4 linked regions of the Homo sapiens genome follow. The protein of the gene in region 4 interacts with the protein of the main gene of each other region in a pairwise test. Each region holds a gene or a part of one and is shown on either strand. Other genes may lie near its edges.

What was found.
Region 1: the proteins of MTUS2 (region 4) and SHFL interact in binary tests that used the Homo sapiens proteins (3 or more experiments, as listed by UniProt).
Region 2: the proteins of MTUS2 (region 4) and NELFE interact in binary tests that used the Homo sapiens proteins (3 or more experiments, as listed by UniProt).
Region 3: the proteins of MTUS2 (region 4) and ZNF230 interact in binary tests that used the Homo sapiens proteins (3 or more experiments, as listed by UniProt).

The regions. Positions count from the first base shown.
Region 1 is NC_000019.10:10,089,299-10,093,766, forward strand, and holds the end of SHFL (shiftless antiviral inhibitor of ribosomal frameshifting protein), read left to right. Parts: coding exon of another isoform or gene 1-80; intron 81-180; coding exon of another isoform or gene 181-191; exon of another isoform or gene 192-352; intron 353-358; coding exon 359-397; intron 398-599; coding exon 600-749; intron 750-1,951; coding exon 1,952-2,055; exon of another isoform or gene 2,056-2,177; coding exon 2,178-2,332; intron 2,333-2,771; coding exon 2,772-3,004; 3' UTR 3,005-3,290; coding exon of another isoform or gene 3,291-3,481; 3' UTR 3,482-3,945; downstream 3,946-4,468. Other genes in the region: ANGPTL6 (angiopoietin-related protein 6), read right to left, coding at 3,291-3,481, 4,051-4,321, 4,395-4,468.
Region 2 is NC_000006.12:31,951,587-31,956,012, reverse strand, and holds the end of NELFE (negative elongation factor E), read left to right. Parts: intron 1-719; coding exon 720-794; intron 795-916; coding exon 917-954; intron 955-1,120; coding exon 1,121-1,458; intron 1,459-1,570; coding exon 1,571-1,715; intron 1,716-1,878; coding exon 1,879-1,933; intron 1,934-2,181; coding exon 2,182-2,284; intron 2,285-3,614; coding exon 3,615-3,712; 3' UTR 3,713-3,926; downstream 3,927-4,426. Other genes in the region: CFB (complement factor B preproprotein), read right to left, coding at 3,983-4,138, 4,409-4,426. UniProt on the Homo sapiens protein: Essential component of the NELF complex, a complex that negatively regulates the elongation of transcription by RNA polymerase II.
Region 3 is NC_000019.10:43,998,865-44,005,988, reverse strand, and holds the start of ZNF230 (zinc finger protein 230), read right to left. Parts: upstream 3,033-7,124; 5' UTR 2,882-3,032; intron 1-2,881. UniProt on the Homo sapiens protein: May be involved in transcriptional regulation.
Region 4 is NC_000013.11:29,019,304-29,026,344, forward strand, and holds part of MTUS2 (microtubule-associated tumor suppressor candidate 2), read left to right. Parts: intron 1-5,153; 5' UTR 5,154-5,365; coding exon of another isoform or gene 5,366-5,395; coding exon 5,396-7,041. UniProt on the Homo sapiens protein: Binds microtubules. Together with MAPRE1 may target the microtubule depolymerase KIF2C to the plus-end of microtubules. May regulate the dynamics of microtubules at their growing distal tip.

The sequences.
Region 1 (4,468 bases), on a different chromosome or scaffold from region 4:
CCACTTAGCCGAGCACAACGTGGCCTCAAAGGGGCGATATGTCACAACATCAACAAGCATGTGGCATTTGCAGGCAGGAAGTGAGTATGGGGGTCAGGCTAGCCTCACTCAGGCAAGCCCTCCCCTAAGCCTCAGTTTCCCCATCTGAGCAATAAGGTAACAGGTGTGCCCACCTCTCAGGGCTGCTATGAGGACAACTGAGGCCACACACCTGGCTCTCAATAAGTGAGTGGTGCTCTGTGAGCTTCTGGCGAGTTAGGGGCACCCTACTCATTGCGGCCGGGGGCCTCCCCCAGCAAACGGGTGGAAAGAGGCCTGAGCCCCATCCCCAGTTTCTGCCCCTGCTATCTCCACCCAGGATCCACCAGAAGATATGAAGCAGGACCGGGACATTCAGGTGAGTTGGTGGCTAGGGCTTGGGATGGGGGAGTTGGGAGGGGGACATCTGCAGGCACAGAAGGATGTCCATTAGGGCAGGAGGGGAGATATTCACTGGGGCAGGAAGAGGACTCGTCTGTAGGGAGAGGAGGGCTGATGCTTATGTTGGTGCAGAAGGGGTGACACCCCCCCACCTCATCCCCACCTGCCCCATTCCACAGGCAGTGGCGACCTCCCTCCTGCCACTGACAGAAGCCAACCTACGCATGTTTCAACGTGCCCAGGACGACCTTATCCCTGCTGTGGACCGGCAGTTTGCCTGCTCCTCCTGCGACCACGTCTGGTGGCGCCGCGTGCCCCAGCGGAAGGAGGTGATGACCTAAAACTTAACCTCGACTTTGACTGTCCCGAACTCCACTCCTGACTCCTATCCTCAGTGACTGTACCTCTGACCTAAGGATTTCAATCACTGAGAGTCCAATCCCTGACCTCCAAACTCAGAGCTCAGCCTTGATCTCTGATCCCAACCCCTGACCCAGGACTGGACTTCTGACCTTAAATGTGAGAAGCCCAATACCTCCTTACCCCAGAACCTGACCCTTGACCCACAATTGAACAGCTACTACAGAAATCAAACCTGGCCAGGCGCAGTGGCTCATGGCTGCAATCTCAGTGTTTTGGGAGGCTAAGTAGGGAGGATCGCTTGAATTTAGGAGTTTGAGACCAGCCTGGGTGACAGGGTGAGACCCTGTCTCCAAAAAAAAATGTGTTTTGAAGACAGGGGGTCTCGCCCTGTCACCCAGGCTGGAGTGCAGTGGCGGGATCATAGCTCACTGCAGCCTCCACCTCCTGGCCTCAGGTGATCCTCCCACCTCAACCTCCCAAGCAGCTGGGACTACAGGCCTGCGCCACCACACTTGGCTAATTTTTGTATTTTGTGTGTGTGTGTGGAGATGGGGTTTTGCCATGTTGCCCAAGCTGGTCTCAAACTCCTGGGCTCAAGCAATCTACCACCTCAGCCTCCCAAAGTGCTGGGATTACAGGCATGAGCCACTGTGCCTGGCAAAAAAAAATTTTTTTAATTAGCTGGGAGTGGTGGTGTGTGCCTGTGGTCCCAACTACTCAGGAGGCTGAGGTGGGAGGATCGTTTGAGCCTGGGAGGTCGAGGCTGCAGTAAGCCATGATCACAACACTGCATTCCAGCCTGGGTGACAGAGCAAGACTCTGTCTCTAAAAAAAAAAAGAAAGAAAGAAAAGAAACCAAATCTGACCTCAAAAACACAGCCCCAAATCTGGCTTCTGAACCTCCTGACTAGTAGTTCACTTCTGGTCAATGCTTAACTAGTTCTTGCAAAAGAGGCAGGAAGCCAAGATGTGTAGTGTTTGCCAATTTCTGTGGTGTAAATATTCCCACCATGGTCAATATCAGGCTACCCACGTGAAGTCACTGATTGAGTTGGGTTGCTCAAGCTGAGGCCAGCCGCTGCAGCACACTGCTAGCCCTGACCCCAACCTCAGACACCTCTGACAATCCTTGGTCCCCTCTCTGTACCTTCCTGCCCACCACCACCAGGTATCCCGGTGCCGGAAATGCCGGAAGCGCTACGAGCCAGTGCCAGCTGACAAGATGTGGGGCCTGGCTGAGTTCCACTGCCCGAAGTGTCGGCACAACTTCCGGTGAGGGCGCTGACCCCCAGCTCCCCCTCAGCCCTGCCCTACCCCAGCCCTGCCCCTCCCTGCCCTGGCCCCACCCTGGCCCAGCCTCGCCCTCGGACCCTCACAGCCCTGCCCGCCCCCAGGGGCTGGGCACAGATGGGGTCCCCGTCCCCCTGCTACGGGTGCGGCTTCCCCGTGTATCCAACACGGATCCTCCCCCCGCGCTGGGACCGGGACCCGGATCGCCGCAGCACCCACACTCACTCCTGCTCAGCTGCCGACTGCTACAACCGGCGAGGTGAGGCTCTTCTCCCCCAACAGCCTGGACAGTCTTTGTCCCCTTCTGTGCCTTTAAGTCCCCAAATCTCCACTCAGTCCACTTTGTCTCCCACAGCAGCAGCCACTGCTTCCACATGGCCTCCATGACCCCCCAGTCTCCGTGGTCTTGCCCAGGAGGCTCTGAGGTTTCACCCCAGTGGCCCGTGCCTGAGGGTCCCCATGGCCTCTGCCCCCATGGTCTCTGGGTTTGGGGCCCCTGTTTTGTCCCCTGTAATCTCAGGTGACCCCCATGTCCCCAGGTCTCCTGTATCTTCAACACCCCTGAATGTCCAGTTGTGCTGGTCCCCGTATCTGGTGGTCTCAGCTCCTCCCTAGAGCCCCGCGTGGCCTAAGTCCCCTCCTCCCCAGACTCTCATGGGACCTCCAGCCCCATGTCTGCAGCACCTCTCCCTCCCTAGAGCCCCACGTGCCTGGGACATCCTGTGCTCACCCCAAGAGCCGGAAGCAGAACCACCTGCCCAAAGTGCTCCACCCCAGCAACCCTCACATTAGCAGTGGCTCCACTGTGGCCACCTGCTTGAGCCAGGGTGGCCTCCTGGAAGACCTGGACAACCTCATCCTGGAGGACCTGAAGGAGGAGGAGGAGGAAGAGGAGGAGGTGGAGGACGAGGAGGGCGGGCCCAGGGAGTGACCCCTGCCAGGTGCAGATACAAACCAGACACGGTCTGTGGCTACTTTGTGTTATTATAAGATATGAGCTCAAACCGAGATATGAATGACCTTGGGGAGCCATCTGAGGCCAAGATATTGACGGGGGGGATTCCTGGGTCCCATTTTCAGCGCCCAGGGTCACAGATCCACAGTGGGAAGTTCTGTGGGACACATTGGCACTGAGCCACAAAGAAGGTGTGGCCAGAACAACTTGGGCTCCTGCTGACCAATGTCCTCTAGGGCCTAGGGGACAGAGGAACACAGAGTCACAGCTTCAGGGGCCGAATGAGCATGGCGGCCTTCCTGAGAGAATATGCCCCACCACGAAACTCAGCCCAGTAGACACCATCCTGGTAGCGGCTTCGGTAGTGGCCGCCGTGGTGCCACACACCGTTGAGGTTGGAGTGGGCACAGGCATGGTACCACCAGCCTCCCCGCTGGTACAGGGCACAGTTACCTGAGGGGAGAGAGAGAGTCCATGTCCTCTCACCAGAATAAAAGCCTCTACCTGCACCTCACAGTGCAAGGCTTTTGCCAGGCATCCCCTGGCCCCTCCCATTCTTATTGAATACAAGCCCTGATCTTCCATCTCCTCAGCAAAAAAATAGGAGCCCTGGCCCCCCAACTTTCTTCAGAGTAATAGCCTTAATTCCTTCCCTATCTCCTTACCAAAGTACAAGTCACATCTTTCCCACCTTTTCTGCAAACTAGGAGTCTACCGTTCATTCCTTTATCAAAGAAAAGTATCTACTTCCTTTCTAGAATAAGAGTACTAGCTCTCACCCTCTGCCCTTTACTTGAACAGGAGTCTTGATTCTTTTTTTGCCTCATCAGAGAAGGAATCTGGACTCCCCATCCCCCCACCAGGATAAAAGTCCTGACCTTTGTTCTCTTGACGGAATAAAAGCTTGCTTATCCTTATACTTACCAGAGGGGCGTCTTACCTACCCTACCTCCTTTCATTCCCTCACCAGAACAGGAGTCCCGCCTCCCCTATCCTCTCACCAGAATAGGAGTTCTCCTTACCAGAATAGGAGTCTCGGTCCCTATCCACGGTGCTGAAGGGCTTGTCATTGTGCCAGGAAAGAGAGTCTCCAGCATCACCATGGTACTGGCCAAGCCGCAGGCGGTAGTGGTCGCTCTCGGGTTCCAGGGAGAAGCCATCATAGTGGGCACGTGCTCCACGGCCCCCCCAGTCCTCCAGGAGAACCAGCAGCTCATGGTCCCCACGGCTGGTCAGCTGATACACGGGTTCAAGGCCCAGCCAGTATTCTCCGTCTGGCCGCCCAAAGCCCGCCTGGCAGGGCAGGAAAGTCAGGAAGCCAGAACAGGCTCCCTCCCCTTCCCTGCCTCTGCCCACCTGTGCCCACCTTATAGTGCTGCCAGGTAGTGAAGAAGTTGACTGAACCATCTTGCCTCCGCTGGATCACAGTCCAGCCTCCAC
Region 2 (4,426 bases), on a different chromosome or scaffold from region 4:
CTTGCAGTGAGTCGAGATTGTGCCACTGCACTCCAGCCTGGGTGACAGCGAGACTCCGTCTCAAAAAAAAAAAAAATTAGCAGAATGTGGTGGTGCACACTTATAGTCCCAGTTACTGAGGAGGCTGAGGCCAGAGAATCACTTGAACCCAGGAGGCAGAGGTTGCAGTGAGTGGAGATCACACCACTGCACTCCAGCCTGGACGACAGAGCAAGATTCTGTCTCAAAAACAAAACAAAACAAGCCACAATGGCAGGTGCGGCAATGGCTCATTCCTGGTTAATTTCAGCACTTTAGGAGGCCGAGGTAGGAGGATTGCTTGAGCCCAGGAGTTTGAGACCAGCCCTGGCAACATAGTGAAACCCTATCTCTACAAAAAAAAAAAAAAATACAGAAATTAGCCAAGCATGGTAGAGCACATCTCTAGTCCCAGCTACTAGGGAGGCTGAGGTAGGAGGATTGCTTGAGCATGGGAGGTCAAGGCTGCAGCAAGCTACGATTGCTCTATTGCACTCCAGCCTGGACAACAGAGCAGGACCGTGTCTCAAAAAAAAAAAAAAAAAATAAGTAAAACCACGTCAAATAAGAAATGTATGTAGAATTAAAAGGGAAGAAAAGATCAGAGGAAACCTAGAAGAGGGTGAGGGAAGAGGAACACCTCTGGTCCATGGTTGGGCAACCTCCTGCTCCACACTGAGGTAGGTCTCTCACCACTCCAGGACCCCGAGAAGGGACCAGTCCCCACTTTCCAGCCGTTCCAGAGGAGCATATCTGCTGATGATGACCTGCAAGAGGTAAAGGCTCCTAATTTCTGTCCCTGAGGGGTTGGGGATGGAGGAATATGAGAGACAAATATATTTTGGACCACATGTCAGCAACTGGAAATCATCTTAACTGTTCTTGGTCTCTTTTACAGTCATCCAGACGTCCCCAGAGGAAATCTCTGTATGAGAGGTTAGAGAGTAGAGATAAGGCTGGGCCCATTTGGTGGAGTTGATTGCCTGAGTCCTTGGGAGGTTTGGGCTGTAGGAGCTGGGCTATAGAGGGAATATTGAGTCTCCACAGGGTCTGAGGGGAGAAGGTAAAACCCCCCTTTGATCTTCAGTCTGCATCTCCCCAGCTTTGTGTCTTCTAGTGATCGACTTCGAGAACTAGGACCAGATGGAGAAGAGGCAGAGGGCCCAGGGGCTGGTGATGGTCCCCCTCGAAGCTTTGACTGGGGCTATGAAGAACGCAGTGGTGCCCACTCCTCAGCCTCCCCTCCCCGAAGCCGCAGCCGGGACCGCAGCCATGAGAGGAACCGGGACAGAGACCGAGATCGGGAGCGGGATCGAGACCGGGATCGAGACAGAGACAGAGAGCGGGACAGGGATCGGGATCGGGATCGAGATCGAGACCGGGAACGGGACAGGGATCGGGAGCGGGATCGAGACCGAGACCGAGAGGGTCCTTTCCGCAGTGAGTGATTTTGGCTGGAGGTCAAGGTGACCTTAACTGAGGTTTATGTGGGTCCTACTAAGTGAAATGTGGCATGGTCTATGTCTTGTGACTATGATTTGTGCTCCCAAAGGGTCGGATTCATTCCCTGAACGGCGAGCCCCTAGGAAAGGGAATACTCTCTATGTATATGGAGAAGACATGACACCCACCCTTCTCCGTGGGGCCTTCTCTCCTTTTGGAAACATCATTGACCTCTCCATGGACCCACCCAGAAAGTAAGGATGACAACAGGGCATGATGAGAAGTCCTGGGAGAATCCTGGGGTGTGAGACCTGAGGGAAGAAGCTGCCCTCCCTGCAGCCGCCTATTATCACTGGGTTTGGTTGGGTCCAGAAGAGCCCCTTGGCTCTCCACTGACCGTGTTTTCTCTTATCCCAGCTGTGCCTTCGTCACCTATGAAAAGATGGAGTCAGCAGATCAGGCCGTTGCTGAGGTTGGAACTTCCCAAATCTGTTCTTCCCATCGCTTCTGCTGTTCTCATGTGTTCTCCTCAAAATACTAGATGCCAGGAAGAAGTTGGTTCCTCTTGATAAAGAAAGCCTCTCCCTATTCACACAGAAAAACTCACATTCTCAGATTCCTTATTCAGTCTCCTCCTAGGATAGCAACTCCTGGAATAACTTCTTTGGTTTATCTGTAATGTTTTCCTCCCCATCCTCTGCCTCCCCTCTTCTGCTTCAGCTCAACGGGACCCAGGTGGAGTCTGTACAGCTCAAAGTCAACATAGCCCGAAAACAGCCCATGCTGGATGCCGCTACTGGCAAGTCTGTCTGGGGCTCCCTCGGTAAGAATGGGATTCTTCCTTTCCCATCCTCTCCCCCACAGGCCATTCCTTTTGGTTCCCCCACACATCCTTGGGTTTCCTAGAGATGATCGAGGTCAGAGTGTGTGCGGAGGCTATGGGAATGGGAAGGAAAATTTCAGATCCTCTGTCAGTTAGAGGTAAAGAAAGGAGAGAAAAGGATTGAAAACAGCTTCCAAAGCAGTGACTGGAACAGGGAAGAAAGTGGGAGCTGGAGTGAGATTGGTGAGGAAGATGAGTGTCTCATGGGGCTTGTTCATTTTGAGATGGAGTAGAGTGAGTTTCATAAGTATTCGAAATCAGGGATCTGGAACTCAGGTGTGAGGTAAGGAAGGAAAACATAGATTAAGTCATCCACATCACAGGGTGGCTGCCAAACAATAGGATCATCAGGGAGACTCTGATTTCAGAGAAAAAAAAACGACCCAGGACTCAGTTTGAGGAGTACTCTGGGACTATGTTAGGAAACAGGACTGTTCACCTCACACCCCACATGTCCCCAGCTGTCCTGACATGTTAGGCTAACGTTGAGCCTAACGTTAGCAAAGGAGACAGGAGGAGGGGTCGGAGGGCTGGGAGCAGCACCGCAGGGGCCTGGGCCACTGAAGCAAAAGGACACACACTTTGAGAAAGAGGGAGTAGCCAGCAGTGTTGAGGCACAGAGATCACAGGATGGGAGTGGGTGAGAGAGATTCTCTGTAGCTCAAGGGTGGTGGGGATGGAACCATTGGATGGGGTGAAGAGAGTAACATGTCTGGTGGAGGGAGGAAAGAGGAAGGGGAAGAAACAGCTAGAGGCTTGAGAGAGAATGGTGAGGGCCAAAGCTACACCCTGAATGAGTTCTGGTGGAGCTAGTAGCATTTCTTAGTGTGAATAATCCATTTTCCCTGAAAGTAGATTTTCCTGGGAAAGGAGTGAGCAGAAAGAAGGGCTCAGCTACAGTGGCCCTTCAGGCAAAAGAAAGGAACTAGAATTGACCAGCATGTCAAAAAAGGGCTACAGAGGTTTTCTAGTTTTTAGCTTCTGACATACTGACTGTAAGTAGTGGGTTAATATCATTCACGTGTCTCAACAATGACATTTGGGATTTTTCTAAGAACAAAACATTCATCAAAATGTCCACTTATACTTTTCTTGGCCATGGGTTGGCACAAAGGAGCTAAGGAAGACAGGCCATCCTGGCCACCAGAGGGCAGCGTGGAAACTGGGCTTCCAGGGGCCAGTGGCCAGGAGTGAGGTGGTCAGGAGTCAGCCTCAGGGTCTGTTCTATGATCTCCTTTAGACCTTAACTGTTCCTCTCCTCCCTCCCTAGCTGTCCAGAACAGCCCTAAGGGTTGCCACCGGGACAAGAGGACCCAGATTGTCTACAGTGATGACGTCTACAAGGAAAACCTTGTGGATGGCTTCTAGGGAACAGAGCTGGATTCCTTGTGCCTCATATGCCCCAATGCTGGTCTCAGTAAAACACTGAGGTGGAAGCTTACACATCTCCCTCAGCCTCTGGTTTTTCAGCACTTGGGATTGGGGTTAAACCTTTAAAAACGGCTGTCAGGTTTGATCTCAGTGTAACAACATGGCCAGTGCCTGTTCCCCACTCCCTTGCCCCAAAAGGATCTGGAACACAGGTGTTGTCGCAGCTGTTTTAATTCAATCCCACGCCCCTGTCCAGCAGGAAACCCCTTATAGAAAACCCAAATCCTCATCTTGGAGTTTCTCCTTCAGCCAGGGCAGCACTTGAAAGAGGTTGATGTGAAAGTCTCGGGCGTGAGCAGGTACCTGCTTTTGCCGCTTCTGGTTTTTGCAGACATCCACTACTCCCCAGCTGATTACACCAACCTGCAGAGGCAGTGGGGTGCCATGGATCATTCAGTAGAATTCCTAATCCTGGAAGCATGGCTGTTCCTGCTTGTGTCTTAGCTGACCTAAAGGAATCAGACTAGGGACCCAGCTCAGCCTCGTTCTTGACACACGCAGGCAAGACATGCGGTCCTAAGGTGAGGCAGGCTCTGCCTACCTCGAATTACTAGCCACATGCATTGAGCTTTCCTGCTTTGGGGCCCATGCTGACCACTTGGCATCTCCCCAGATAGGAAAGGGAGGACTCACTTGAATGAAACGACTTCT
Region 3 (7,124 bases), on a different chromosome or scaffold from region 4:
TGACAACTAAAGACAATGCATAAACTGGACTTTGAATGGCATTGCAGGTGAAGGGTGGGGTAGGGGACACAGTCATAAGGACTTTATTTTTTTATTTTTTGAGACAGAGTCTCGCTCTGTCACCCATGCTGGAGTGCAGTGGCGCGATCTCAGCTCACTGCAACCTCCGCCTGCTGGGTTCAGGTGATTCTCTTGCCTTAGCCTCCCAAGTAGCAGGGATTACAGGAGCATGCCACCACACCCGGCTTTTAAAAATATTTTTAGTAGAGACAAGGTGTCACCATGTTGGCCAGGCTGGTCTCGAACTCCTGACCTCAGGAGATCCACCCGCCGTTGCCTCCCAAAATGCTGGGATTACAGGCATGAGCCACTGTGCCTGGCATAGGACTTTAAATGAAAAACTGAACAAATTTAAATATGTAACTACAGATTAGATAACAGGATGTTAGGTAATATGCTATTCAACACTATCTAATGAGTAACACTACAACTACTAGTAGTCTTTTAACAGATCTGATATGTAATAGATAACAATATTATTTAATATCTAATATTATCTAGCATGTTATGTGAAACCCTATACCATCCCTTCTTAAATACCTCTTACCAACACACCCCACATTTACCATGGTATGTGGGCTTCCTTGCTGCAGAAAGCCATAATCAGCTGTCTCTGGTTAGTTATGTTCCTGGTGGTATTTGGCTGATGGTCATCAACAAAGCAACCAGGAAAAATGTAAACAATTGGCAAATTTGGATAGAGTATGAGAACTCCTTATACTATTTTTGCAACTTTTCTATAGCTTTTAAATGATATAAAGATGAAAATATTTTATTTTGTTTTTAGTTTTTAATTTTTTTTTTTTTGAGACAGAGTCTCGCTCCCTAGCCCAGGCTGGAGTGCAGTGGCGCGATCTCGCTCACTGCAAGCTCCGCCTCCCGGGCTCACGCCTTTCTCCTGCCTCAGCCTCTGGAGTAGCTGGGACCACAACTGCCTGCCACCATGCCCAGCTAATTTTTTGTATTTTTTTTTTTAGTAGAGATGGGGTTTCACCATGTTGGCCAGGATGGTCTCGATCTCCTGACCTCGTGATCCACCCGCCTCGGCCTCCCAAAGTGCTGGGATTACAGGCGTGAGCCACCGCGCCCAGCAAAAATATTTTAGATATCAGGAAATAGTCATAAGGATAATGGGAATAATAAAATTGAGCATTATATAATATGGCAGTTCACTAGTTTATTCTTTTTTTTTTTTTTTTTTTTGAGTCTCACTCTGTTGCCCAGGCTGGAGTGCAGTGGCGTGATCTTGGCTCACTGCAACCTCCACCTCCCGGGTTTAAGCAATTCTCCTGCCTCAGCCTCTAGAGTAGCTGGGACTACAGGCACGTGCCATCACGCCCGGCTAATATTTGTATTTTTGGTAGAGATGGGGTTTCACCATGTTGGCCAGGCTGGTCTCAAACTACTGACCTCAAGTGATCCACCTGCCTTGGCCTCCCAAAGTGCTGGGATTATAGGCATGAGCCACCACAACCAGCCTCACTAGTTTAGTCTCTATTAGCAATATTTAAAATTTTCTATAGTTAAAAGACATATGGGAAAACACATTAAAATATAACAATTTTTAAAAAAATGTTTATCAACAAATATAGAAGTAGACACAAAGAAAGACAAAAGAAATCAATTAGAAGCTTAACAGTTACTACCTTTACATCTTGGATACATGGGTAATTAAAAAACTTTTTCTACTCTCATTTCTCCTATTTCAGACTTTTCCACAATGATACAGTTCCACAACAGTACGAAATACTTGGAAAACATGAAACAAAATAGTTGAGAAATTTTTAAAAATTCCTAGACGTCCAAGCCCACGAGCCTTGCTCTCAACGTCCTTTCAATCAGGTCCTAACTTGCTTTCCCTACGAGTCCAGCTAGTTCCTCTGCCTCAATGAGAATGTATCCAAGAGGTGATCAACTCAGGCTCTGACCTGGACTGCCTAGGTGCCAACCCCAGCTCTACCTCTCACTAGTTGGCTGCTATGCACCCTGTGTCTCACTCTCATTTTTAAAACAAAGAAAAGCAATACTTCACAGAGCCACAGTGTGGCCTAAATTTATTTGTATAAAGCACTTAGAATGAAGTTACCAATTACGGCTTAATGATTATCAACACCCATTCCCGAGGACACACTCTCGGTTGGGTGAACATCTCTATAAAGGAAAAAAGCCAAGGACCAATCACATAGAGATTTGCCCTCAGTAGCCAAGAAGTCCCCTCCCTGCAGCTCTTTTAGAAAGGTCAGGCTGGGGAAGGCGAAAGTTGTGAAATACCCTGACTGCATCGCGGTCCCCCATAAAAGTTAAATGCTCCCCGCCCTTCGTGGAAGCGGACGCAACTCGCTTTCCTAAAAAGAGGTCAGAAGGCCTCCCGGGATCATCCAGCGTCCTGCAGGGATTAGGGAGAAGGACCAGGGCCCCTGCAGCTGAAGCTATGACTCCACCCGGGGACCTGACCTCTTCGGGAAGTTAACAAGAGACCACCAGTCACCAAGTGACAGGGACTGCTTTAAGGTTCTCATTTGCGTTATCTCTTTCAGTTCCCAAAAACGATTCTACTAGGATGGTTCTAATGTCCCCATTACCAAAAACAGCAATGGAAAGTATAAGGACATTGAGTAACACTCCACGTCACACTGCGAGAAAGCGGTCGCACAGGTAGGGTGGAGAGAGGCAGGCTGAGCGAGGTCAAAGTCCTGGAAACGCTCACAGCAGGGCACAGAGGACCCCGCCAATTCCAACCCCCGGGATGCGAGCACAGCACCCCCATCCCAGAAAGCTTCCGTGGACGGGAAAAAAACCCCATTCCCCGCCCCCACCAAACCTCCGCTCTCCGCCAAGGCTTCTTTTCCCTTGCTTGGATCATCGATCATCGGGTCGTTGCGACCCCAAGCGAAGGTGACAAGTTCAGAAGGACCCGCCAGACGCAGAAATGGCTCAAACTACGCGGTTATGTAGCAACCGCAGGCTCACACACCGGAAGTGCTCGCGTCTCCACAGAGCGTCTGGACTCCACTTCCCAGAATTCCCCGGTTCAACTGCTTGAGCCAAAGGGTCCGCCATTCCATGAAGTTGATGGACTACAGTTCCCAGAATTCACTCGTCCACCCGCCTGAGCCAACTTGCCCGCGACTCAGAGTGTGTCTGGACTCCGCTTCCTCCAATGCCAAAGGAAAATGTCTATAATCTCACTCTTCAGCGGGAAGCGTTGGACTCCGCGGTGGTCCTTGACTACACACACCGCAGTGCCCACCGGGAACGTATTCCATATCTCTGAGCGCCTGGTGGGGAATGTGGACTGTGACCCTGTGAGTCGTCCGTCTCTCTTCCTGAGTCTTTGAGCGAAAATAGTGTATAGACAGGAATTCCTGAAGTCTAAACGCCTCCCACGATGACAGGAGTGTTATTGGGAAGAGAACAAACGAGGAGATAAAATCTTCAAGGATTAGGATAATCTGACGATGGGAGGTTAAAACTAACGGTTTAAAGGATGAGCCAGGTGGAATGGTTTGGCAGGGGCAATGAGGAGCAGGAAGACACCAGCCCCTACTCCAGAAGCTGTGGGACCACTGGTTTGGCAGGAAAAGCCACCCCCATTTAAGATCACAGCTACTAGTGGAGAAGCGGTGTCGTCATGGAATAGCTATCTTCCCATAAACTTTTCATGGTATTCATATTTCTCCTTAGATGTAGAAACATCAAATTTCAGCGAATGTAGTGAATTGCTCAGTACCTCAGAGCAATAATGACTGATGAAGAGCTAGGCATTGGTATCAATCTTACATTGAGATTGTAAATGCAGTAAAACGGGAGGATTCTATAGGTGAAGGAGCATGTCTTATAAAGAGTTTTCTTCCTGGCCAAGCGCAGTGGCTCAAACCTGTAATGCCAACCCTTTGGGAGGCCAGGGCAGGACGTTCCCTTGAGCTCAGGAATTGGAGACCAGACAGGGAAATACAGGGAGACTTCGTCTCTATAAAAATTTTTTTTTAACTGGCCAGGCATGGTGGCCTGATCTTGGGACTACAAGTTCCAAGTACTCAGGAGGCTGAGGTGGGAGGATTGCTGAAGCCCAGGAGTTTGATTGAGGCTGCAGTGAGCTATGATGCCACCACTGCCCTCCAGCCTAGGCAACAGATACCTCAATAATTAAAGATTTTTTTTTTTAAGTTTCTTCTTATTTCTTGGTGAAACATAATTTCTTTATTATAGTTAGCAATTTAAAAACTGGCATTGGTTAAAAAATAATAACAGTATAAAGCTAAATTAGGAAACAATTCATCTAAAAACCTGCTCTTTTGAAGGTAACTTTTTTTCTCCCTATAAACATACATTGGCCTATAAACCAATATTCTTCTTTTTAAAAAAAATGGAGTCTACTGTTTACCTATTTTTCTAAACTAAAAACTTTTCAAAATTTTGTTTAGACACAAAAATAAGGTGACTGTGCCAAACTTTTGATGCCAAACATCCGCTCTCTGAAAATTGAGTGATCACTATTCATATGCCAGTTATAGCTGTATCCTTGATCTACTCTGCCTTCCCGAAAGATAAGATGTATTGACACACTCAATCGTAGCATGCAGGGAACTGAGCCTAAAAGGTTAGGGGCACTTGGCATCAAAGGTCCCTTCTGCTTCCCAGGTCCGTGCACTCTGGGTCTGTGTTGGGAGGAGCAGCCTCTATGATCTCCTAGATGCCTTTGGGGTCATTCTTCCAGTGTTAATGGACAGCAGGTCCTGGCTTCTGTTGACATGACCAATCCAAACTAATCTCCTAAATCAGTTGCTTATCTCTACCGTTGTTTTATCCAGAACAGGTTTTCTAATTTTTTTTTCCAAAGTAGATAGGCTGTGAATTTTTAAAATTCTTAGTTCTGTTTCCCTTTTAATTAATAATTCTGACTTTCTGTGGTGTCCCTCCCACATGTGGGAATTCTGGGAGATACAATTCAAGCTGAGATTTGGGTGGGGACACATCCAAACCATGCCATTGATGACACTGACAAAAACAACAGGGAAAGGACTCCCTATTCAATAAGTGCTGCTGGGATAACTGGCTAGCCATATGCAGAAGATTGAAACTGGTCCCCTTCCTTACACCTTATACAAAAATGAAGCTGGGCGCTGTGGCTCACCTCTGTAAAAATGGGTAATAATGTCCCCACTTTTAGTTACTTGAGTCTTTTTTAGTCAGTCCTGCTAAAGTTTTCACAATTTTGTTAGTCTTTCAGAATAATCAACTCTTGGTTTGGTTGATTTTCTTTGTATTCTTCTTCTGTATTTTATTTATTAATACTTTAATCTTTATTATTTCCCTCCTAATCACTTTCTGTAAGATTCTCCTTTTCTAGTTCATGAAAATAAAATTAGGCTGTGGATGTCAGATCTTTCTTCTTTAATATAAGCATTTACAGATATAAATTTCCCTCCTCCTACTGCTTTTGCCTCATTCCAAAAGTTTTGGCCATTGTTTTCATTTTCAGTTGTCTAAGGTATTTCCTAATTTCACTCCTGATGTACTCTGACATATTATTTAAGAGTGTGCTGCATGCACACGTATGTTTATTGTGGCACTATTCACAATAGCAAAGACTTGGAACCAACCCAAATGTCCACCAATGATAGACTGGATTAAGAAAATGTGGCACATATACACCATGGAATACTATGCAGCCATTAAAAAAGATGGGTTCATGTCCTTTGTATGGACATGGATGAAGCTGGAAACCATCATTCTGAGCAAACTATCACAAGGACAGAAAACCAAACACCGCATGTTCTCACTCATAGGTGGGAATTGAACAATGAGAACACTTGGACACAGGGTGGGTATATATATATATATATATATATATATATATATATATATATACACACACACATACATATATACATATATATACATACATATATATACACATACATATACATATATATACATACATATATATACACATATATATATAAAGAGTGTGTTTAGTTTCCACATACTTGTGAATTTTCCACTTTTCATGATGTGATTGAATTTCAGCTTTTGTGATCTAGATTATAATTGGAAAAGACTTTTATGGTATTAAACTTTTGAATTTATTAAGATGTTTTATTGAATTTATTACAACGTTTTCAGCCTGTAGTGTGAGAAAAATTACAAATTATTGTTGAATTTATATTGTATTCAACCAATGGAACACTACACAAAGCCACAAATACTAAGAATGCAACTTCGGAATAGAGGAGGAGGGGAAGACAGGAACCAAGTGTGAACAGATATTATCAAAATAATGCTGTGAACTGCAGTATTTAGTGTACTCTGCATTTCAACTCAGGTGTCCCTGAATTATTTGTAGATTTCCTCTCTTAGATACAATTTAAAAACATCGCGTTTGCTCCTTTTAATTCATTTAACACATAGTGAACACAAAGTGATAATCAGTGTTAAAGTTGTGAAGATGCAGCAGAAAACACATGTCACTGACATTCTAGTGGTAATCAACTTTGATATGTTCATGATTCGTTTTGTAAATGCATGAATGAACTCTTAAGGTCTGTCTCCTGAATAACTGTAACTGTCAAACTTTTGTTTGAAGCCCTACTGCACAACTTACAAGGGTTCTCCACTGTGACAGTCCCAGGACCACTGGGGTATGCTGAGCTATGGCTGAAACAGGCTTTAACTTAAATGTTTTTTCTCCTACAGGACTGGATGAAATGTATCATCAGCATGGATTCTGTGATAAATTACAAGATACAAACTCAAAAGGAACTGCTTTCTATGTGCCTCATATTTTAATGTTTCTCCCCTTTGTGAATGCTTAGGTGAGACTGTAGTCATGAAAACTGAGTAAAGACTTTATTACACACATTACTGAGGCTTCTCTCCAATGTGGACATTCTGAAGTTGAAGACTTGAGGCCTGAATGAAGCACATACCACCCTCCTCATACTTCCGTAGTTTCTCTCCCGTGTGGAGCTTCTGAAGCATAATAAAATTCAAGTGATCCAGCAATTCTATTACTGGGTATATCCAAAGGAAAGGAAATTAGTATGTCACGGAGATATCTGCAC
Region 4 (7,041 bases):
CGGGGGCTGCTGTTTTGTCCCCTGCTGTGTTCTGCTAACATTGGTGTCGATGAATGACACCAGTGAGTGATTTATCAGTGGATTATCAATGAATGATAATGTAGAAGGAACTCTTAGCTTTTCCACGATAGTATGGGAACAAGAATGGATTGCAGATATTTTCGATGAAAAATTAAGGATGGGCTCCACAAGTTTTAAAAGGATAGAACGATGCATTGAGACCAGCAAGGTGATGTTTGAGAAGTATATTTTTATGATCCCACCCATGGGTGCTAAAACCAGTTACAAATGTCTCGGATTGGGTCAGTGGAGTTTAGGACAACTTATATGGTACTTTGGTGTTTTAATTAATGATGTGGAACTAGAGGGTGATTTATATGTCCATGAGGAGGTCATTCTTAGAATGCGTGGTTAGAAGTAGAAGAGAATGGAAGGCTTGCTTTCTTATGACTCTAGATGGTGCAGTTAGAATTGAAGTATTGTGCATAGCTCTGGTCACCTTGTTTAGGAGGGACTTCAGGTTCCCTGGTGCTACACGGTGTACTTAGAGGAAAGCTGTTTGGATGGTGGGAGTTTTCAAAAGCTAATCCCACAGTTGGGAGAATCTGAGTTCTTTGACAAGGAGTAGAATAGGTTTTGGGAGGAAGGGAGCATATAGCTCTTTGTAAATACCTGAAAGGTCATCTGGTGGAAGAATTGCATCATTCTGCTGTAGAGAGGCAGAGCTTGCCAACAGAGACCCTGCCCAGATGTGTGGTGAGTTTTCTGGCCCTAGAACCAGGGGAAGCCACTTAGAAGACTCTTAAGCATCAGGTAGGTTATAAGCCTAGATCTTTACATTCCTTTCAAACTAGTACTGAACTAATTGATTTTTTTCAAGATAAAATATCAATTACTTCTAAGGCCATTATTGTTAACTTTTTGTAATAATAGATCTGAGGCATATGAAAGTTACATGTCTCACTCTGGGAAAATGCACCTCAACTAGGGGTTTGTACCATTGGTTGACCTATTTGCATATTTTATTTAATCACACACAGTCTTGTATTATGTACAAGTTTGAACTTCTGTGATCATGTTATATATTCTGTGAAAACGTTTATCTTAGTAGAAGGCCTTGGATTGAAATTTAGATCCGGACAGAAATTCGTGTTTGTGTTTACTTTGCCGCTGTCTTATGGCAGGATGAGGGAGCTGGAGTGAGGGAGACGCGTGAGGCCACATAAGGAGGAGGGAAGCTGACAGGAAACATGACTTCCTGTATATAATTTTGCCTGATAAAATTGAAGAAAGTTTTTAAATTTGCTTTTCCTGTCTTATGTGAACTTCCACGTGTTGGTTTCTGGTTTTGTTTTTCTATTCTTGTTCTTACAATAGTTTGTTTTCCTTTTGTTCTTCCTGTGTGGTGTATGATTCCATTCATGGGCAGCTTTTCTTCTTTACAGCTTCTGCTTTCTAAATGTGTCCCAGCTCTGCCACTCATGAGCTGTGTGACCTTGGGAATGTTACCTTCTCTGTGCTTTCATTTCCTTACCAGGACGTGGGAAAAAAAAAAAAGCAAGGGGATGTGAAGACCTGTCTCTGGAGGCCTGCTATAAATATTATTAAGTGTCCTAACTTAAATTAAAATTGAATATTAAAGACTTGTAATTGTGTAATTTTAATTTAAAATTAAATTTTAGGCCAGGTGCTGTGACTCATGCCTGTAATACTGGCACTTTGGGAGGCCAAGATAGGAGGATCACTTGAGGCCAGGAGTTTGAGACTAGTCTGGTCAATGTATCGAGACCCTATCTCTACAAAAAATTAAAAAATTAGCCAGATGTGGTGGTGTGCACCTGGAGTGCCAGCTGCTTGGGAGGCTGACCCAGGAGGATCTCTTGAGCCCAGGAGCTCATGGTTGTGGTGAGCTATGAACGTGCTACTGCACTCCAGCCTCGGCAACAGAATGAGATACTGTCTCAATTTTTTAAACAAATTTGTATAATGGCTGAGAAAATACTGGGCCCCTAGGAGGTTCCACCTTTCTTTCTGTCCCCTTACCAGTGAGTACCAGTTGTTTACTGACAAAGATAAAGAACATTTATGATGTAGTTCCTTAAAAATTAAAATACAACTCTTTCTAGCATGACATTGGTTTTATATTTCTTTGTCACTTTCTTGCAATCATGTTACATGTTGTGGACTTTGGTACTTTGTTTTTGTTTGTCTCTGCTGAGCAAAGTTTCTTTCTTTCTCCCAGCTTCAACAATTCAAACCGAAGAGGGCTCTTGGCTGCATATTTATACTTCTGCCCACAGAAAATTAGAGGCAGTTCCCTTCTGTGGATGGCCTATATTTATGAACTTTCTTGCCCTTCTTGACTTTGCAAGATACCCGTTTCTCATCCCAGAGAGCACAGCATTCTTTTAAACTGTGATCTTATTGATTTGCCTACATGCTTTTTGTATTTGTGCTTAGAGAACATGTGTATCTTCAAGGGAAACGCTTTTAAAATTGAATAAACAAAGACACAAGGGTTTGTTGAGAATCCCCTCTGTGTCAGGAAATGAAGACTGTGATCAGGGTATGAGCAACTTGGTTGAGGGCTATATTGGGGTCAGGCTGCACCAGGGGGTGCTACTGGCTTAGTGGAGATAAGGCTGGTAGAAGATGGAGAAGGAGAAAAAGCATGAGAGCGGGGAGGATGAGGACAGTGAGGGAGTCGTGGAAAGAACAGAAGAGCAGTGTGGTACGGAAATGCAAGCGCACATGCACATGTATGACTCTGTATTTTCCCATGATCATGCAAACATGGGGAAAGAAATGGAAAGATCTAGATGTTAATGTGTCTTGGGGTATGGGCTAGAAGAGGCAAATTTTAAAAAATGGAACAAAAACCAGCTTATAGGAAATGATCTTATGTATGTAAAAAAGTTTACATGCTTATGTATAGACGCAAAAGAAAAGAGATCTCTAAGTTGGAAACACAGAGGGCTTCAGTGAGGAGGAGCATGAGGATGGCTGCAAGGTGTCCTTGGGTTGGGTGATGGGCTGTCACGTGTTATATTATTTTGCTTTGTAACATATACATTTTATTAAATAGAGATAGGGTTTTGCTGTGTTGCCAAGGCTGACCTCAAGTGATCCTCCCACCTCAGGCTCCCAAAGCGTTGGGATTACAGGTGTGAGCTACTGTGTCCAGCCCTCATATTCTTTTTAATATATGAAACAACATATTAACAGGGATAAAGGGAAAACAAGTGGGTGGCCACGTTGCCATGTAACCTGTTTCAGGAGAAACATAACAGTAGCCTCACATGTGGTGTGCACGTGTGCTTGCACATTCTTGATGAATGAGGAGGAAAGTGTGGAAGGCTTCAAGTCTCCATTGGGGGAATTGGTGACGGGGCAGAACCTTGTTGCTGTTAAAATCCCCTATCCCCAGTGCCTAATAAAATGCACTCATAATAGTGGATGAAACAATGTCAACCTTGAATAGAATGGTTTAGTGGTGATCTGTGAGTCTACTTTAACAGAAAAGCATATCCTGTGTAGATTTTAAACTCTTTGGGGGCAGAAATAACGCTGATCTTCCTCATCATTCATTTGGACATTTATTCATTCATTTGTGCTGCAAATACATAATACGTGCCTAATATGTATGCCAGGTATTAGACAATATTTATTTTCAGTGTCTAGCAAATCTGAAAGTCTTTTTTTAATTCTTCAAAGTGAAAATACAGGATACTACAAATCCATCATTATAGGATGACCTAGTGAGGAACGCTTCCTGGAGGAAGTGGTAGTTATGTTGCATATTGAAGGATGCAAAGGACTTGTAAGATGAGGTTGGGGGAGGATTCCACATTCCATGCAGATGGAAGAGTATGCGCAAAGGCCCTGAGGCAGAGAGTAATGAACATGGTACTGTGAGGAATGAGGCCAATGTGGCTGCAGCCTGCAGAGCAGAGGGTGAGGTGGGGTTGAGGCCAGAAAGGTGTTCAGGGCCTGATCATGCAGGCCTCGAAGGCCAGAGTAAAGCATTTCCCCCAAGTTTTTATTTTGGAAAATTTCAAACCTATAGAAAAGTTGCAGATGTAATAGAATTATTACCTAGATTTTCAAATGGTTGACTTTTGCCAGTTTCTCTCTTTTACTCTTTCTCCTTCTCATATGCACACACACATACATACACGTTTTTCTTGGTCGAATCATTTGAGAATAAGTTAGAAAAATCATGACATACTACCTCTGAATTCTAAAGCATGTATATTTCAAGAACCAAATTAATCTCTGGCATAATTATAGCACGATTACACACCCAAGAAAATTAATTATAAAATACCTGTACCTTATATACAGTCCATATTTAAATCTCTAATTGTCCTAATAATATCCTTTGCTAACATGTTTTGAAAATCCAGGCTCCGCTGACATTTTTTGGGACCAGTTAGGCCAGTTATTTTGCAATACATACCTCAATTTAAATTTGCCAGATTATTGTCTCATGGTTAAATTCTGGTTGAACATTAACTACTGCATAGGTGATGTGTGGCCCTGAGAACTAACTAATATCAGGAGTCCGTAATGTCAGTTTCATTACTAGTGATGTTAAATTTGATCACGTGGTTAATGTGGTGTCTACCAGATCTCTCCATTGTAAAGATAAAATTTTCGTTTTGTAAGAAATGAAGTAGCCTGGGGGAAGATACTTTAAGCATCTATGAATATCTTGTTCCCCAACAATCTTTTACCCAATGTTTGTACCTTTGGCATCCCTTGTGTAAGATAATTATGAATGTAGCGATTGCAAAATAGTGATTTTTCAAATTCTATAATTTTTTTCTACATTCGTTGATATTCTTCTGTAAAGAAGAGCCCTTACTTCTCCTCCATCCTTTTAAATCAGTATCAGTATAGACTTGTGGATGTTTAAAATTTAGATTTAAGATCTCACATGCATTTATAATCCATTTCTAACATTAAACATTTTGATGTTTAATTTTTGTATTTGGCCAGGAGGAGCCCTGATCAGAAAGGTTTTTTGAGAAAACTATTGATTGAATGAAATAATAATATAGAAATGACAAATAAATCTGTGTTTACCACTTTTTTCTCCTGAGAAGTTCTATTTGTCAATCTAATGTGAATATATTTTTATTTCTCTCTAGGTCTCATGGACTGATTGGCTCTCATTCAGCAGGAACCTAACAGATAAGTCTTCCTGCTGTATATCAAGACAATGCTTGGTTTTCAAGCTGTTCTGAGAATGATTAAAGCAGTGTCGCAAGGTGACATTGTCAGGGGAGAACAAGCAGCTTGAGAATTTCCTCTTAATCTGATTGCAGCTTGAAGGCAGCCCATTTCCATTAAGTAGGACTGCATGGCAAGCAGCCCCACCAAAGGGTTGACAATGAGCGTCCCAGTGGCTCCTAAGAAATCATGTTACACTCAGTTGCGGGACAACAGAAATGCAGCAAGAAATAATAATGAAAGCATCTTAAGTCTGGGAGATACGAATGCCAATCAAATCATGTTGGAGGTCAGCTCCTCTCATGACGAGTCCAAGACATGTGACCTGGGAGATGAAATTGGAAATACAAATTCAAGTGAGCCAGAAAACCGTACCCATTTCCATAAGGAATTTCACCAACTTCAGGGCTTTGGGAAAGGCTCTCAGGCTGGCTCTGCCAGCCTGAAAGATTTTAGACTTTCTTCAACCATTCAGAGGGAACTCAATGAAGAGCACACAGTGGAGAGAGGCACAGATAGCCTGCAGACCACGCGGAGTATTCAGGGACCAAGTCTGTCGAGTTGGAGGAATGTGATGAGTGAGGCCAGTCTAGACGTTTTGGCTAAAAGGGATGCTGAAATTCCCCGGCATGTTCCCAAGGATAAACTGGCAAAGACCCTTGACAATGAGGAACTGAGGAGGCATTCTTTGGAAAGAGCAAGCAGCTCTGTAGCTGCAGTCGGGAGCCTGACTCCGCAGCATCCACAGCCTCTATCCCTCGACTCCCGGGAAGCACGGGGTCAGATACCTGGGGGTGGGGAGGGGCCACAGAAGACATTGCCAGACCACGCTGTCCCGGCAGCTTTCCCTGCAACTGACAGTACCTCAGAGGGAAAGAGTGTGCGTCATCCTAAACCATCTACCTCAGAAAGCAAGCAGAGCACTCCCTCAGAGACCCAAACAGTGGGGGCACATGTACTGCAGGTGTGCAGTGAGCACACATCACATTCCGCCCATCCAGAGCCTGCTCTGAATTTGACTTTGGCATCGAAGGAAATCCCAAGTAAACTGGAAGCACAATTAGGTCAGGGAAAGGGAGAGGCCAAGCTGGATCTGAAATATGTTCCTCCCAGGAGAGTTGAACAGGAGGGAAAGGCAGCCCAGGAAGGGTATCTGGGATGCCACAAGGAAGAGAATCTGTCAGCCTTGGAGGGAAGGGATCCATGTGGGGAAGCACACCCGGAAGCCACCGATGCACTTGGCCATCTGCTGAACAGTGACCTCCACCACCTTGGGGTGGGAAGAGGCAACTGTGAAGAGAAGAGAGGAGTCAACCCAGGGGAGCAGGATTCTCTCCACACCACCCCCAAACAGGGCTCTGCTTCCTTAGGAGGGGCTGATAATCAGCCCACTGGCAAAATTTCACCATGTGCAGGTGAGAAGTTGGGTGAAAGGACATCCAGCAGCTTTTCACCAGGTGACAGTCATGTGGCTTTTATTCCTAATAATCTGACTGACAGCAAGCCCTTGGATGTCATTGAGGAGGAAAGGCGGTTGGGCAGTGGGAATAAGGACAGTGTTATGGTTTTGGTGTTCAATCCTTCTGTTGGAGAGAACAAGACGGAGGTGCCTGAGCCCCTGGACCCTCAAAGTGGCCGCTCAGAAGCACGGGAAAGCAAAGAGGTCACCACATCTGTTGCTGAAAACAGGAACCTTCTAGAGAATGCAGATAAGATTGAAAGCACCTCAGCAAGAGCAGATTCAGTTCTCAATATTCCAGCACCCCTCCACCCAGAGACAACTGTGAACATGACCTACCAGCCTAC